2 linked regions of the Homo sapiens genome follow. The protein of the gene in region 1 interacts with the protein of each later gene in a biochemical or structural test. Each region holds a gene or a part of one and is shown in the gene's direction. Other genes may lie near its edges.

Region 1 (7,034 bases):
TTCAGGTGCCATCTGATCCTGCATCCCTCTGGCAAATGAGTGCTGGCTCCTGGCTCTGGACTTTGAGGATTTGGAGGAGGAATTCAGGAAGTAGGCAAAGAGATATGGAAAAGGATACAATCCCATCTTTATACCCAAGTGTGGAGCTCTATTATAGTGTATTTCCCCCCTTCTCATGTCCTTTGGGCTTTAGTGATAAATGTAAAAGGTGCTGGGAGCAACAAAAAGCTTGGTGGCTCTGCTTTCCCCTTCTTCCCTCCAGAAATAGCCCCTGGCTCCCTTGTGTGGGAGGATTCTAATCACCGCAGCCCTCCCATGCATCCCCCCTTCTCCCACCCATCACAGTTGAATTGTAGTCCTGGGAAGCAAAGCTGAATTCTCCAGATTAACTTGCCTTTTTGCACCTCTTGGGACTTTCTTCCAAGTCTGCCTTGTGACACGTGTGACTCCGCAAGTTTCTTGGTATTTACAGAAACAGCTTTGGGGTCACCAAGAAGCTTAGAACCTTTTTCCTCTTTTCAGTGTGCTGCATTTTGGGCTAAGACTGAGGCTGAATTGAAGGAGGAGAAGCCAAAGGAAAGAGCAGACGTGCGGGCCAGGAGCCCCACAGGGGATGGTGGAGATGTGGAGGGAGTGTGCTCCACGCTGGCAGGTTCTCCTGCCCTTTTGGCTTAACCCTCTTTCCCCGTTTGCTGCCGGAGTTTGTCCTGCTCACCTTGGGCAGGAGAACTTTCCACTCACTCCGAGGGGCAGAGGTGAGGCACTGAGAATCCCGCCCTGGGCTCAGATCCCTCCTGTCATCTCTGTGGAGTTCTTGGATGACTAGTTTTATTCCAGCATTTGTCACCATCTGCCAGGCTTGTAGGCTCCTGGAGGGCAGGGGATCTGTCCCACTAGCTTTATCAGTCCCCAATCCTAGATGCTTAGCAAAGTGTTTTTGTACAACAGGTGCTCAATAAGTACTTATAGAATTAAATGGCAACACAGAAGATTGAAGCTTTTTTTTGTCTCACAGTACCTTCATTCAAGGAGAGGGGGTGGTGCAAGAAAAGCTGCATTCAGGTTTGCATTCAGAAAAATACCACTTACGTTCAACCCTGTGAGCATTACCTGGTGCTGGAGGAAAGTGTCTGCCCGAATCCTCTGTGTTGGACCTCACTACTTCTCCTTCTGCCATCCTCACCCCTCCTCCTTCTGCTGTCCTCCCTCTGCTGTCCTCACCCCTCCTCCTTCTGCTGTCCTCCCTCTGCTGTCCTCACCCTCCTCCCTCTGCTGTCCTCACCCTCCTCCCTCTGCTGTCCTCGCCCTCCTCTCTCTGCTGTCCTCACCTCTCCTCTCTCTGCTATCCTCACCCCTCCTCTTTCTGCTGTCCTCACCCCTCCTCTCTCTGCTGTCCTCACCCCTCCCCTTCCCTCTGCTGTCCTCACCCTCCTCCCTCTGCTGTCCTCACCCTCTTCCCTCTGCTGTCATCTTCCTCCCTCTGCTGTCCTCATCCCCTTCCCTCTGCTGTCCTCACCCTCCTCCCTCTGCTGTCCCCACCCTCCTCCCTCTGCTGTCCTCACCCCTCCTCTTCCCTCCGCGGTCCTCGCTGTCCTCCCTCTGCTGTCCTTGATCTCCTCCCTCTGCTGTCCTTGATCTCCTCCCTCTGCTGTCCTTGCTCTCCTCCCTCTGCTGTCCTCACCCTCCTACCTCTGCTGTCCTCACCGTCCTCCTCTGCTGTCCTCACCCCTCCTCTTCCCTCTGTTGTCCTTGCCCTCCTCCCTCTGCTGTCCTCACCCTCCTCCCTCTGCTGTCCTCACCCTCCTCCCCTGTTGTCCTCACCCTCCTCCTCTGTTGTCCACACCCTTCTCCCTCTGCTGTCCTCACCCTCCTCCCTCTGCTGTCCTCGCCCTCCTACCTCTGCTGTCCTCACCCTCCTCCCTCTGCTGTCCTCACCCCTCCTCTTCCCTCTGCCGTCCTCACCTCTCCTCCCTCTGCTGTCCTCGCCTTCCTCCCTCTGCGGTCCTTGCTCTCCTCCCTCTGTGGTCCTCACTCTCCTTCCTCTGCTGTCCTCACCCCTCCTCATCTCTCTGCTGTCCTCACCTCTCCTCCCTCTGCTATCCTCATCTTCCTCCCTCAGCTGTCCTCACCTCTCCTCCTCCCTCTGCTGTCCTCACCCTCCTCCCTCAGCTGTCCTCACCTCTCCTCCTACCTCTGCTGTTCTCTCCCCTCCTCCTTCTGCTTATACAGCCCATAAACAGTGCTGGCAGCATCTTCTCTGATTGTGTCTCCTCCTTTAAAGCCCTATCCTGGGGCTGGTCACTGGAGTGGAAGCTGTCCAACTTACTTAATTGTGAGTTCACTGTCACATTCAGAGAGGAGAACGGGCTTCACTTACTGTTTTTCTCTCTTGCATGACTGGGCCTCTGCCACTGATGACATTTGGCACTGCCCCCCTCCCTGCCTGAAGGCGAGCAGTGCCAGAGCCACTGTATTTAAAACACAGACACTCACTTCTTTTCTCAGGAGAAACAAGAGCCCTGCTTGGAGAGTTGATTCACTCTGCAGCTGACCCTCAGGGGCTGGGCAGTTTGCAGCACTCTCTCTGACCAGCTTCTTGTGCCATAGGCTTCTTGCAAAGGACCAACAGCCTGGAAGAGAAGAGTCGCCTTGTGAGTGCCTTCAAGGAGAGGCAATCCTCCAAGAACCTGCTTTCCTGTGAAAACAGCGACCGGGATGCCCGCTTCCGGCGCACAGAGACTGACTTCTCTAATCTGTTTGCTAGAGGTAGCCCCTGCCCCACTCCCGCCCCATGCTAGCCAGTAGATTTCTTATTTGAGTTTCTTGACTTTTTCCTGCAATTTTACTTCTTTTATCAAGAAATGTCATTATTCTCTCTGAACCCACATGAAACTGCTTTTGTGACTTTGGGGGAATATAATTGACTCCCTCCCTCCCTGCTGGCCAGGTCTCCATCATTTTGGAAACTGGATGAAGGCAGTCAATAAAAGTCAACTCTAAAGACACTCGAGGGAACAAATATGGATTCATAGACTCTCAGAGTCAAAGGAACCTTGCATATAAGAAAATCTAATGATTTCCTTAATAACGTTTATCCTGGAAGATTGGCCACACACATACACACAAAATCACACTATGGGAAGTTGCATGCTGAGCCTCATAACCAACGAGTGTCCTGGAACTTGTTTTCCTTTCAGAGATGTTTTACTAACCCCTGCTGCCCCACAACACTCATCTCAGGAGGTGCTTTACCAGTCTCTCCCAAACAGCTCATAGGTAGATCCGCTTCCATCCCCTTCTGTGAACTTCCCACAGGGCCACAGAAGGCAGACCAGAGTATTAAACAATATGTCACTAAAACCCTGGAGCTAACCCAGGAAGTCACAGAGAGTATCGTGCACAACTGCACAGCCTGCCTGTGAGCTACAGAATTGGGCCCCTACAGCTTTTTTCCCTGCCTAACCTCTAGCCTGACTACTGCAGAGCCTGTCACCCAAAGTCACCTCTGGATATCTCAAAGTCCAGGCCCAAAAGGGTGGGGTCAAGAAAGAGGCAGGGGTTCCCTGTCCCACCTTCTTGAGCCCCATCTTCCAGCTCCAGTTTCCTGTCGAAGGACACCGCCAAGGACCACCCTCCTCAGGGGGAACCCCAGCCTCTACCCACAGAGGCCTTACCCTCTGATGCCAACAGACCAAGCACATCACAACACCAAACCAGATAGACAGGGACACACCTGGTCCCAGGGGAGCACGACAGATGCCCCCTCCATCACACTCCTCACAGGTGCCCATTCAACCTGCAGATGACAACCGCAGTCGCAGGTTGTTCACGGCGTCTCAGAGCACTTCATTCCATGTCTGAGCAGCCTGTCAGAAAGGCTGTGAACCCCCAGGAAGCATGTGCAAAACTTCTGTGTATGTGCATTTTTCTGGAGATGTGGTATATCCGATTCTCAGTGCACATACATATCCCAGAATGAAATCAGGCCTATACAGATAGCATGGTTAATATTAGGGGTCTCTGGGCTGAAGAAATCTAGATATGAGTCAGGTGAAAACCATTCATTGCTCTCCCCAATTCAGATCTGCTTCCGGCTAAGAACGGTGAGGAGCAAACCGTGCAATTCCTCCTGGAAGTGGTGGACATACTCCTCAACTATGTCCGCAAGACATTTGATCGCTCCACCAAGGTGCTGGACTTTCATCACCCACACCAGTTGCTGGAAGGCATGGAGGGCTTCAACTTGGAGCTCTCTGACCACCCCGAGTCCCTGGAGCAGATCCTGGTTGACTGCAGAGACACCTTGAAGTATGGGGTTCGCACAGGTAAGGAGGAGAGTTGGGTAGACAGGTAGTGGCAACTTTGCCCTCCATCTCACCCTTGCCAGTTGTGAGGATATCAAACTTGTGTTGGAAGAAAAACACAGCCCTGGTGAGATAAGGCGGCAAAGTACCCAGTGACCACAAGAACAAGCTTGGGCAGTAACAGTTGGTGGAGGGACCCGACCCAGGCAAAAGTTCATCAGCATATATCATGGTAAAAGTAGATAAAAAAGATATAAATGCTTGGTGCTAGGTCAAGTTCTGTATAAAGAGTTTTCATTCTGGCCAAGCACAATGGCTCATGCCTATAATTCCAGCATTTTGGGAGGCCAAGGTGGGCAGAACACTTGAGCTCAGGAGTTCGAGACCAGCCTGGGCAACATGGCGAAACCTTGTCTCTACATATGTGTGTGTGTGTGTGTGTGTGTGTGTGTGTGTGTGTGTGTATATACCTATTTTTATATATAAATATTTATATATAAATATTTAATATAATAAATAAATAATAATTATAAATAATAAAATTTAAAAATAATAAATTATAAATAATAAATATAAAAATAATATATAAATATTTATATATAATATTTATATTATATATTATATATAAATATAAATTATATAATATTTATATATATATGAAAATGAGCTGGGCATGGTGGCGTGCACCTGTAGTCCCAGCTACTCAGGAGGCTGAGGCCAAGAGGCAGAGGCTGCAGTGAGCCAAGATCGTGCCACTGCACTCCAGCCTGGGCAATAGATTGGGACCCTATCTCAAAAAAAAGAATTTTCATTCTTGGATTTAGGCTATTCACAACCTAAAGAGAGCAGAATGACCCATCCTCTGCTTCTTTTCTTGCCTCCATTTTCAGGTCTATTTCATTCTGATAAATCCTGCCCTTGCCTGTCCCTGACACTGGGGAGAATTGGGCTATTTCCTCTCCCTTTCTGTATTAGTTTCCTAGGAATGCCATTATAAATGACCACAAATTGGATGGCTCAAAACAATAGAAATTTGTTCTCTCACAATTCTGGAGGCTAGGAGTTTAAAATCAAGGTGCTGGCTATGCTCTCTCTGATGGCTCTTGGAGAGGATCCACCCTTGTCTTTACCAGCTTCCAGGTGTTGTGGATATTCCTTGGCATTTGTTGGCTTGTAGATGCATCGCTCCAACCTCTGCCTTCACTTCACATGGCCTTCATCCTGTGTGTGTGTCCAAATTTCTCTCTCCTTATAAGAATGCCAGTCGTTGGATTAAGGCCCACCCCAATCCAGCATGACCTCATCTTAACATGATTACATCCGCAAAGACCCGATTTCCAAATAAGGTCACATTCACAGGAACCAGGGATTAGGACTTGAACATATCTTTTTGAGGAACACAATTCAACCCATGACACCTTTTACCAGCTAGGCCAAAAAGACACATGCACACACAGGCCAAAAAGACACAGGCACACATGCGCGCGCGCGCGCACACACACACACACACACACACACACACACATACACACATGCCTTCTCATTCTACTGCAACTTCTGGAACTTAGGACACTCTGAGTCACCAAATTCTATTTCCAGTGGGAGTCCTTGAGGATGTCCTCTTGCCTCCTTTTCTTGTTCCAGGAGCTCTCTCTAATCAGCAATCCTCATCAAAGCAGTTGCTTTCCAATTGCCTCCAGTTCAAGGACTTTGGGGCCTCTGTCTGAGATGCTTAGAAACAGCTCAGACTGTGGACTAAGCCCAGGAGTGACACAGTGGTTTCTTCTCCCTATAACTCTCTCCACACTACAGTCTGGCTTTCCTGAGCTCTCAGGCAGACAGATCTAGAATAATTGACAGTCCCTAGCTTAGTTGCCACCACAGGGGAAGCCCCAAGGCCACAACTGGCAATCCTGTGTTCTTTCTTCTTCTTTGTCTCTCCTTCTTTATTTTCCCTCTCATTCTTCCTCGTCATTTGAAGATAGATTTAAGACTGAGACTAGGAGGCTGGTGGTGATAGAGCTGAGTAAGACTATTGGATGTCAAAAACAAAGTGTTATAATGAAATAATGATGCTGGCCAAAGATGCTTTTTAAAATGAGGAATCCCAGAGAGCTGCTGAGGTCTGCCAACACCACTGGAATAAGTGCAGCTTCATTAAATGACTGATGGATACACAAGACTCAGTTATATGTACAAAATTTATGTTGTTTGATTTTTAAAGAAAAGCACTCTATCAATTTACATTTAGTTACTTCTCATCTTGGTCAGATGGCTAATATATTCCTAATGGAAAACAAATAGTGTTATTCGGCTGCATTTTAAAAAGAGTCAGAATTCCCCATGTATGTTTAGCTTGACTTGCTTTGGTGTGATATTTTGAACTTTGCCAGTTTGCTCTACATGCGCTTTCTCAGAGAGATGAGAACTACATCATTTTATTATGAAAGCCCAGAATGGCGTTGTCCCTCAAATAAAAATACATGATTTTGTCATAATATCAACTAATATTATCTACAAAACCAAAGCATCTTGTGGTCAGAGAAAGCACTGACGGGCCTGGCCTGGTGGCTCACACTCGTGATCCCATCACGTTGGCAGGCTGGCAGGTGGATCACGCGAGCTCAGGAGTTCAAGACTAACCTGGGCAAAACCCCATCTCTACCAAAAATACAAAAATTAGCTGAGCGTGGTAGTGTGCACCTGTGATCCCAGCTACTCTGGAGGCTG
Region 2 (7,034 bases), about 120 Mb from region 1:
GTGGTTTTAACCGTTTCGTTGATGTCCCTATGTGTCATGCTGGGAACCCCAGCTGATCCCCATGGTTAGTTCATGAGGGACAGGGGTAGATGCTTCTTTCTTTCATAGCAGGATCTCATTAATATGAATGTGGGTGCATAGCAGGGCTTCTATATATACCTACTGACTTAGCTCTATTAAACCACAGCAGTCTTGATATATTCCTGGGGTTACAGAAGTTCCTCCCTCTTGCTGAAGAAAGTGGAGGTGCCGTTAGGGGCTGACTAACATGAGAGAGAGCCCCTGGACTGAGATGGGTTTCAAGAAACACAAGCTTCTTTCAGGACTTTTTTGCTGGAGATTTCCCTAAGATAGGCACATACCTCCAACTCAGGAAGACTATATTGGGGTGAGTGACGTATTGACATTATGGTCCTGGCCTATCTTGCAGGGATTTGAAACTGGACAACATCCTTCTGGATGCAGAAGGTCACTGCAAGCTGGCTGACTTCGGGATGTGCAAGGAAGGGATTCTGAATGGTGTGACGACCACCACGTTCTGTGGGACTCCTGACTACATAGCTCCTGAGGTAAGACCTGTGTGCAAAGGTTCACCTCCTCCTGGTGCCAGGACCGAGGCAGGGGTCCAAACCCATGCACTGGGGTCATCTAGTGGTGCTGGGGGAAGGCTCTGGAAATCCAGGATGGATTCTAGGAAGGAGGGAGAAAAGGAAAGGAAAAAAGTTTGCTGATTGATGTCTGTCAAGAAGTCCTAGTGTTGGGGAGATGATGAGTGAAATGAGAGTAACAGGCTATTTCCCAAACCCGGGCAAGTTCACACTGAACATCTCTTTCCCATCCTAGTCCAGAACCACCAATAAATCTAGGACCAAGAAAAACGTGTTGACTTTTATTATTGTTTTCATGTCTTTAAAATCAGAACAGGGTGGGCACAGTGACTCACATCTGTAATCCCAGCACTTTGGGAGGCCAAGGCAGGTAGATCGCTTGAGCCCAGGAGTTCAAGACCAGCCGGGGCAACATGGTGAAACCCTGTCTATATAAAAAATACAAAAATTAGCCAGGCATAGTGGTGCAAACCTGTAGTCCCAGCTACTTGGGAGGCTGAGGTGAAAGGATCAATTGAGCCCAGAAGGTTGAGGCTATAGTGAGCCATAATTGCACCATTGCACTCCAGCCTGGGTGACAGAGCAAGACCCTGTCTCAATAAAAAAAAAAGTAAAAAATAAAATCAGAATAAAGGAGCATCATTGATCATGGGAGCACTTCACTTTATCAGCTACAATTTGCTAACAGTAAAACTAGGAACTGTTTGCTATTTCCTGCATAGTGGCAGTTCTATGCTGTGAGTACACAGGATGGAGCAGGAAGAGGAGAGTGACTGTGCCTCATTATATACAGATATCAGAGATGTTCACTGTGAACCACTCCAATAGGTTGCCTTTCCTGAAAGTTGTTTGGGATGTTTTGCTCAGCATGAAGTGTTTGTTTGCCTTATTCCTGCCCAAACTGAGAGATAACTAGTGTGATGTGATTCAGATTTAAGACATGGCCTGTCATAGACAATCAAAATGATCTTCATGGTTCTGAGACATGTAAGATAGGAAAGAAGTACCAATCCCCACTAAACATCGCCCATGGCGGATAGGTATTAGCACATTCAGAGCTCATTTCTTTCAGTGGGCATTGTTTGAGCACGTGCTAGGCACAAAGCAATGTGGAGATAAAGAACTGACTGAGACACTTGTCCCTATTCTAAAGAAGCTTTTGGTCTAAAGGGAGTGATAGATAAGTAAACAACTAATTAAGCAGAATAAATAGGCACATAAAAGAAGATGGTATCCTCAGGGATCAGGAAAGGCTTCTTGGAGCACCTGGTGGATGAATTGAGTTGTAAAGAATGAGGATTTCCTTTGACGGAAGGGGTGGGGAGGGTATTCCTGAAAACAACAGGATTGGAACGGGGGCAGGACAGGAAAGGAGGTTCAGTGTCCCTGGGCCCTGGATCCTTTGAGGGCAGGGTCTGTGTTTCTAATCTGGGTACTGCCAGGATCCGGCACACAAATCAGGATCTTAGAAAGGTTTGTTAAAAAATGACAACTTATGACATTCCAACATGAGCAAAGGCCAAGGGACAAAAACATCTTGGTCTTTTCCAGGACAGTTAAAAAGTGTAGCTAGATCATAGGGTTTCCTGGTGCTCATAGTAATGAATGAGATTGGGATAAAGACCCAGTGAATGTGGCTTTGATCCTGTAGGATCTGTGGACCCACTCAGGGTTTCAGTGGAGGAGAGTCCTAGTCAGATCCATCCCAGGAAGAAGGAAGGCCACAGCTGTGCAGATCAGAAGGCAGGGAGTGAGGGACTGATGGTCAGGAGGCTTCACAGACCACACAAGACAGGGGAGGCCTGAGGAACATCTCGAAGTGAAGGTGATGAGTAATAGGTAGTTTCCCTTTAGAACCTTTATCTTCTAAGAGATCTAAAGAGTAGGGATTTCAGTCTTTCTGCAAATGTATTTCCTTAGCAAGAACACTAGGAATTCAGCCTTCAAGGAGCAACAAATGAAAGCAAGAGCTTTCGACAGGGAACTGCTTTTCTCGTGTTCTTCGTTCATTCTTCATTGTCAGAATACTTAGTTCCAGTTCCTCTCTAAGTTGATGCCATCATTCATTCTTCATTGTCAGAATACTCAGTTCCAGTTCCTCTGTAAGTTGATGCCAGAGCCTAACAGTTGACAGCCCATGTTATAGTTAAGGACCCAACCCAAGACAGAACATTCACTTTATAATGAACAAAATAGCCACTCAGCTTTCATGAAAAGCAGTCCATTGGTGAGACTCACAATGAACAACTCTGATCTCTGTTCACAATGAAGCACAGACACTCTTCCTTCCTGCTCTGGCCTTCGTGCCCACCGTGCAGAAACATCTCTGCACTGGCAATGACAATCCCTGGTCTTGCTGTAGGCAAATTACAGCTGATAAAGGTATTGCTGCCTTCATCGAGGGCTACTGGGAAGATTAAATGAGATTATGCCTCTAAAGCATTAGCCCAGTGCCCAGCCCACAGGGAGTGCTGGCTAAATGGTGGCTTCATGGTTATCATCATTGTTGGGTTGTGTGATGGGATAGGAAACGCAATCCTGAGAATTGAGTCTTGAGTCCAGATTTGACCACAAATGTACACATGAGCATTTGATGACTTGATGAAGTCACAAAATGTTTTTGAGTCTCAGGTTTCTCATCTTTCACATGGGAGCCATAACTCCTTCCCTACCTACCTCATCAAGCTGCTTTGAGAATCTAATGAGATTAGAGCATGGAAATGCTTGAGAAAGCAGAAGCCTCCATTCAAATGGGAGAGGTGGTAAGGTGCTGAGCTAACCTCAAAACCAGAGACAGCTTTGGAGGCATGAGGTCTGCCCCAAGGCTTATCTTCCTGCCACATGATATGCCCCATGGCACCCCCTCTGCTTTCCCACTCCCAGCCCCTGCTTCCCAGGAAGTGGCCACCAGCCTTTGGTAATAGCATCATCAGGGCCAATGCCTTCTCCCTTCTCCCTTCTCCCGAGCTCTGACGCACTTGAGGGGTTGGCTCCAGGTGACTTCCCGTGACATGGAAGCCTTGCCCTTCTGCCCAGATCCACTGCCGACAGTTAATTAGGAAGCAGATAATTAGAGCCAAGCCTAAAAGGAATCTTACAAAAGATGCCACCCAAAATGAGAAGGCTGTGGAAGGGGCCTGGAGTGGGGTGGCAGGGCGGCTCTGTGGTTTCCACAGCACCATCCAGTCTCAGCACACACAAGCCACCTTCTCCCCACCCCCTGAAGGCACAGAACCCAGCTGCCTCCTTCCGAGAAGCTGGAGGGCAGCCACTGTAGCACCCAGTGTGCCCTGAGGCTAGAAGAGAAGGGAGCATGCCCAGTAGATACACACAGTGGCCATGCATGCTAGCCAGTCACAAGATGTTGACTGTCTCCTGGATGATAGAACAGGCTGGCCACAGCACTGGGCTCAGTAGCATGTTACAGCTCCTACCCTCTGGTACCTTATAGTTGCACTGGGGAGACCGCTGGCCATGAAAAAATAACTAACGACGTAGTGGTATGTGGAAAGTGAGAAAGTGCCTGCAACTCGTAGGAACAGGCAGGGGTCTTAAGTTGGGCGCTGTGTCTTTTGAGGTTGAGGGAGGAGTTGGCATTGGCTTTGGAGCATAGCAGAATCACTGGCTCCTCAGGACAGTGGAGCCCATAGCTTTGACCTTACAGCTCAAGGAACACTAACCACTGGGCTTAGACCAAAGGTATTAGCTAAACAGATTACCAGCCCCAAGTAATGTAGAGTTGGCTGCATTTTCTCAAATTCCTTTTCATTCCAAATTCAGAAGATTCTAAACTGTGAGTGTTTTAACTGTTTCTAAATGCTTCTTCTATCCAAATCTTTCTAGTTCATCCTAAGCAATTTGTAACCTCTAGAAGGGTATTTTGAGCAGACCACAGAAAGTCCAGATACTTGAATTCAGCCTCCTCTTCCCTGGCCACCATGAAATCTGAGAACTAAATTGGAGCCTTGTCCCCAGCCTGAGATATTATCTGCCCAAGGTGTCCCATGGGCTGGAATGACTAGGCATGAACTTTGCCTTTTTTTTTCAGGGTCCTCAAAGTGTTCCCCCTTGCAGGATATGCACTCCAACCTTGTTTCTCCTTCCCTTTTTAAAATTCTTTATAGAATTATGGACCTGGATAGGTCATCTCATCCACCCTCCTGTTTCTGGGCAGAGCCATGCCTAATCCCACTCTAATAAGAAGAGAAAATAATTGTGGAATGGGAATGTCACCTCATGATCTCTTCCTTGTAGAGTGGACAGCTCAGCATTTATTTTTCCTCTGAGCCAAACACATCATTGATCTGCTACATATTTATTTTATTTATATATGTTATATTTTAAAGGCATACTGTAAAATACAAAGCTCTATACAGCTGAAAGGTGATATTAAATTCTAGTCTTTTCTATTGGATGTCATCTCCATATATATATATATGTATTTTTATATATATGTATTTATATATATGTATTTATATATATATGTCATTGACATGCTACATATTTATATGTGCGTGTGTGTGTATCATGTATTTATGACATATGTGTATGGAGAGCAGATCAAATAGAATAGCCAATCAGAAAAGATCCTTTTTTTTTTTTTTGAGATAGGGTCTCACTCTGTTACCCAGGTTGAAGTGCAGTCGCATGATTATGACTCACTACAGCCTCAAACTCCCGGGCTCAAGTGATTTTTCCACCTCAGCCTTCTGAGAAGGTGAGACTACAGACACGTACCACCATGCCCAGCTAATTTTTTTTAAGAGACAGGGTCTTACCATGTTGCCCAGGCTGGTCTCGAAGTCCTGGACTCAAGTGATCCTCCCACCTCAGCCTCCCAAAGTGCTAGGATTACAGGTGTGAGCCATTGCGCCCAGCCAGAAAAGATGTCTTGTATTCAGTAGCATCATGTCATACATGCATTTAATCTAAGTGAATTTGACTCTACATATTTGGCTAGAGGAAAAAGAGAGACAGCATAGATAAGACAAGTGACCATTGTCAAAGACAAAATGCACCAGACAATCAAGGAGATGGTTCGATTCTGGCTATTGCAATAGGGGGTTCATTAGTGAAGGTGGCCCCAAAGGAAGGGGGCCTACGGTTTTGTAGAGGCAGGCAAAGTGGGGGATTCTTCAGTGGATCTTATGGGAATCATGATGAACAATAGAGATGGGTTTTTTCTTAGAATATGCAAGAGTATAGTGGTCCTTTATAGGGAGACCATTACAGGGTGGGGGAGACTTATTCATTGCAGTTTCCTCTCCAGGAGCACAGGGCTCAGGTAAATTGAGTGTTGCACCATTTAAAGAAGACCTCTGCTCACCTTTCCACTCAGGCAGTGAGCTGTGCCCTGGACTGTGTGAGATGGGAGACCTGACCTCGCTGCACTCTGAGTCACTTACAGCTTGTTCTCTCAGTATGCATCGTGCTCCCCTGACCCTGATTTTAGTGTCAAAATATGCAGTTTTTTAAAATGTGGCCCTCATGCCAGTCAGGAACTTTATCTGGTGCTCAAAGAAATAGGAATTTGTTCCCACTGGAAGACAGACTGTCGATGTTGACTTTGGAAAGATGATAGCTGGCCCCCAGCATAGTGCCTCCAAACTCAACTGTCACTGAATTTGCTGATTTAGAACTTCTAGGACTAGGACTCAACTGTAGGGAGGAGCAAGTTGGAATTGAAGTCCTTCCCATGGGCGTTCGTAGCACGGGTGTCACTGGGGTGGGAGCCTTTGATGGTGCCTGACATTGCTGGTTTCCTGAACAGATCCTGCAGGAGTTGGAGTATGGCCCCTCCGTGGACTGGTGGGCCCTGGGGGTGCTGATGTACGAGATGATGGCTGGACAGCCTCCCTTTGAGGCCGACAATGAGGACGACCTATTTGAGTCCATCCTCCATGACGACGTGCTGTACCCAGTCTGGCTCAGCAAGGAGGCTGTCAGCATCTTGAAAGCTGTGAGTCACTGCCCCTCACCCATGGCTGTGCTCTCCTGGGCTCCTCCCCCTACACACACACACACACACACACACACACACACACACACACACACTCCCTTCTCCCTTTCTCTGTCCAGCTTTCTCCCTCCCACCTCTGCTCATCACCACGGAATGGGAAGGATTAAGGGCAGTTGCCACTGGGAGTTCAGGCACAGTGCAGAGGACTGCTGCCAAGAGAATGGGGCCTGAGATGACTTGCTCTTCTGGTGGGAAGAGGAGCGCATGTCTGTGCTTCCTGAGATGAGGCACTGTGTACATCTGTGTCCTCCAGCATTTCAGAGGGAACAGAAGCAACTCAACTGTGCTGACATCACCTCTGCCACTTCCATACCTTCCTTACCTGTGGCCTGTCTTCATCAGGGACCTGTGATGGAGAACAGAGAGGAGGGGAGGGAGGGTGGGCACCGCCCACCTGTGTCCACGAC

What was found. The genes of interacting proteins can lie anywhere in the genome.
Region 2: of the proteins of GAD1 (region 1) and PRKCE, one has a biochemical effect on the other in vitro, tested with the Homo sapiens proteins (one study listed by BioGRID).

The regions. Positions count from the first base shown.
Region 1 is NC_000002.12:170,826,868-170,833,901, forward strand, and holds part of GAD1 (glutamate decarboxylase 1), read left to right. Parts: intron 1-2,607; coding exon 2,608-2,766; intron 2,767-4,082; coding exon 4,083-4,325; intron 4,326-7,034.
Region 2 is NC_000002.12:46,144,663-46,151,696, forward strand, and holds part of PRKCE (protein kinase C epsilon type), read left to right. Parts: intron 1-430; coding exon 431-569; intron 570-6,378; coding exon 6,379-6,567; intron 6,568-7,034.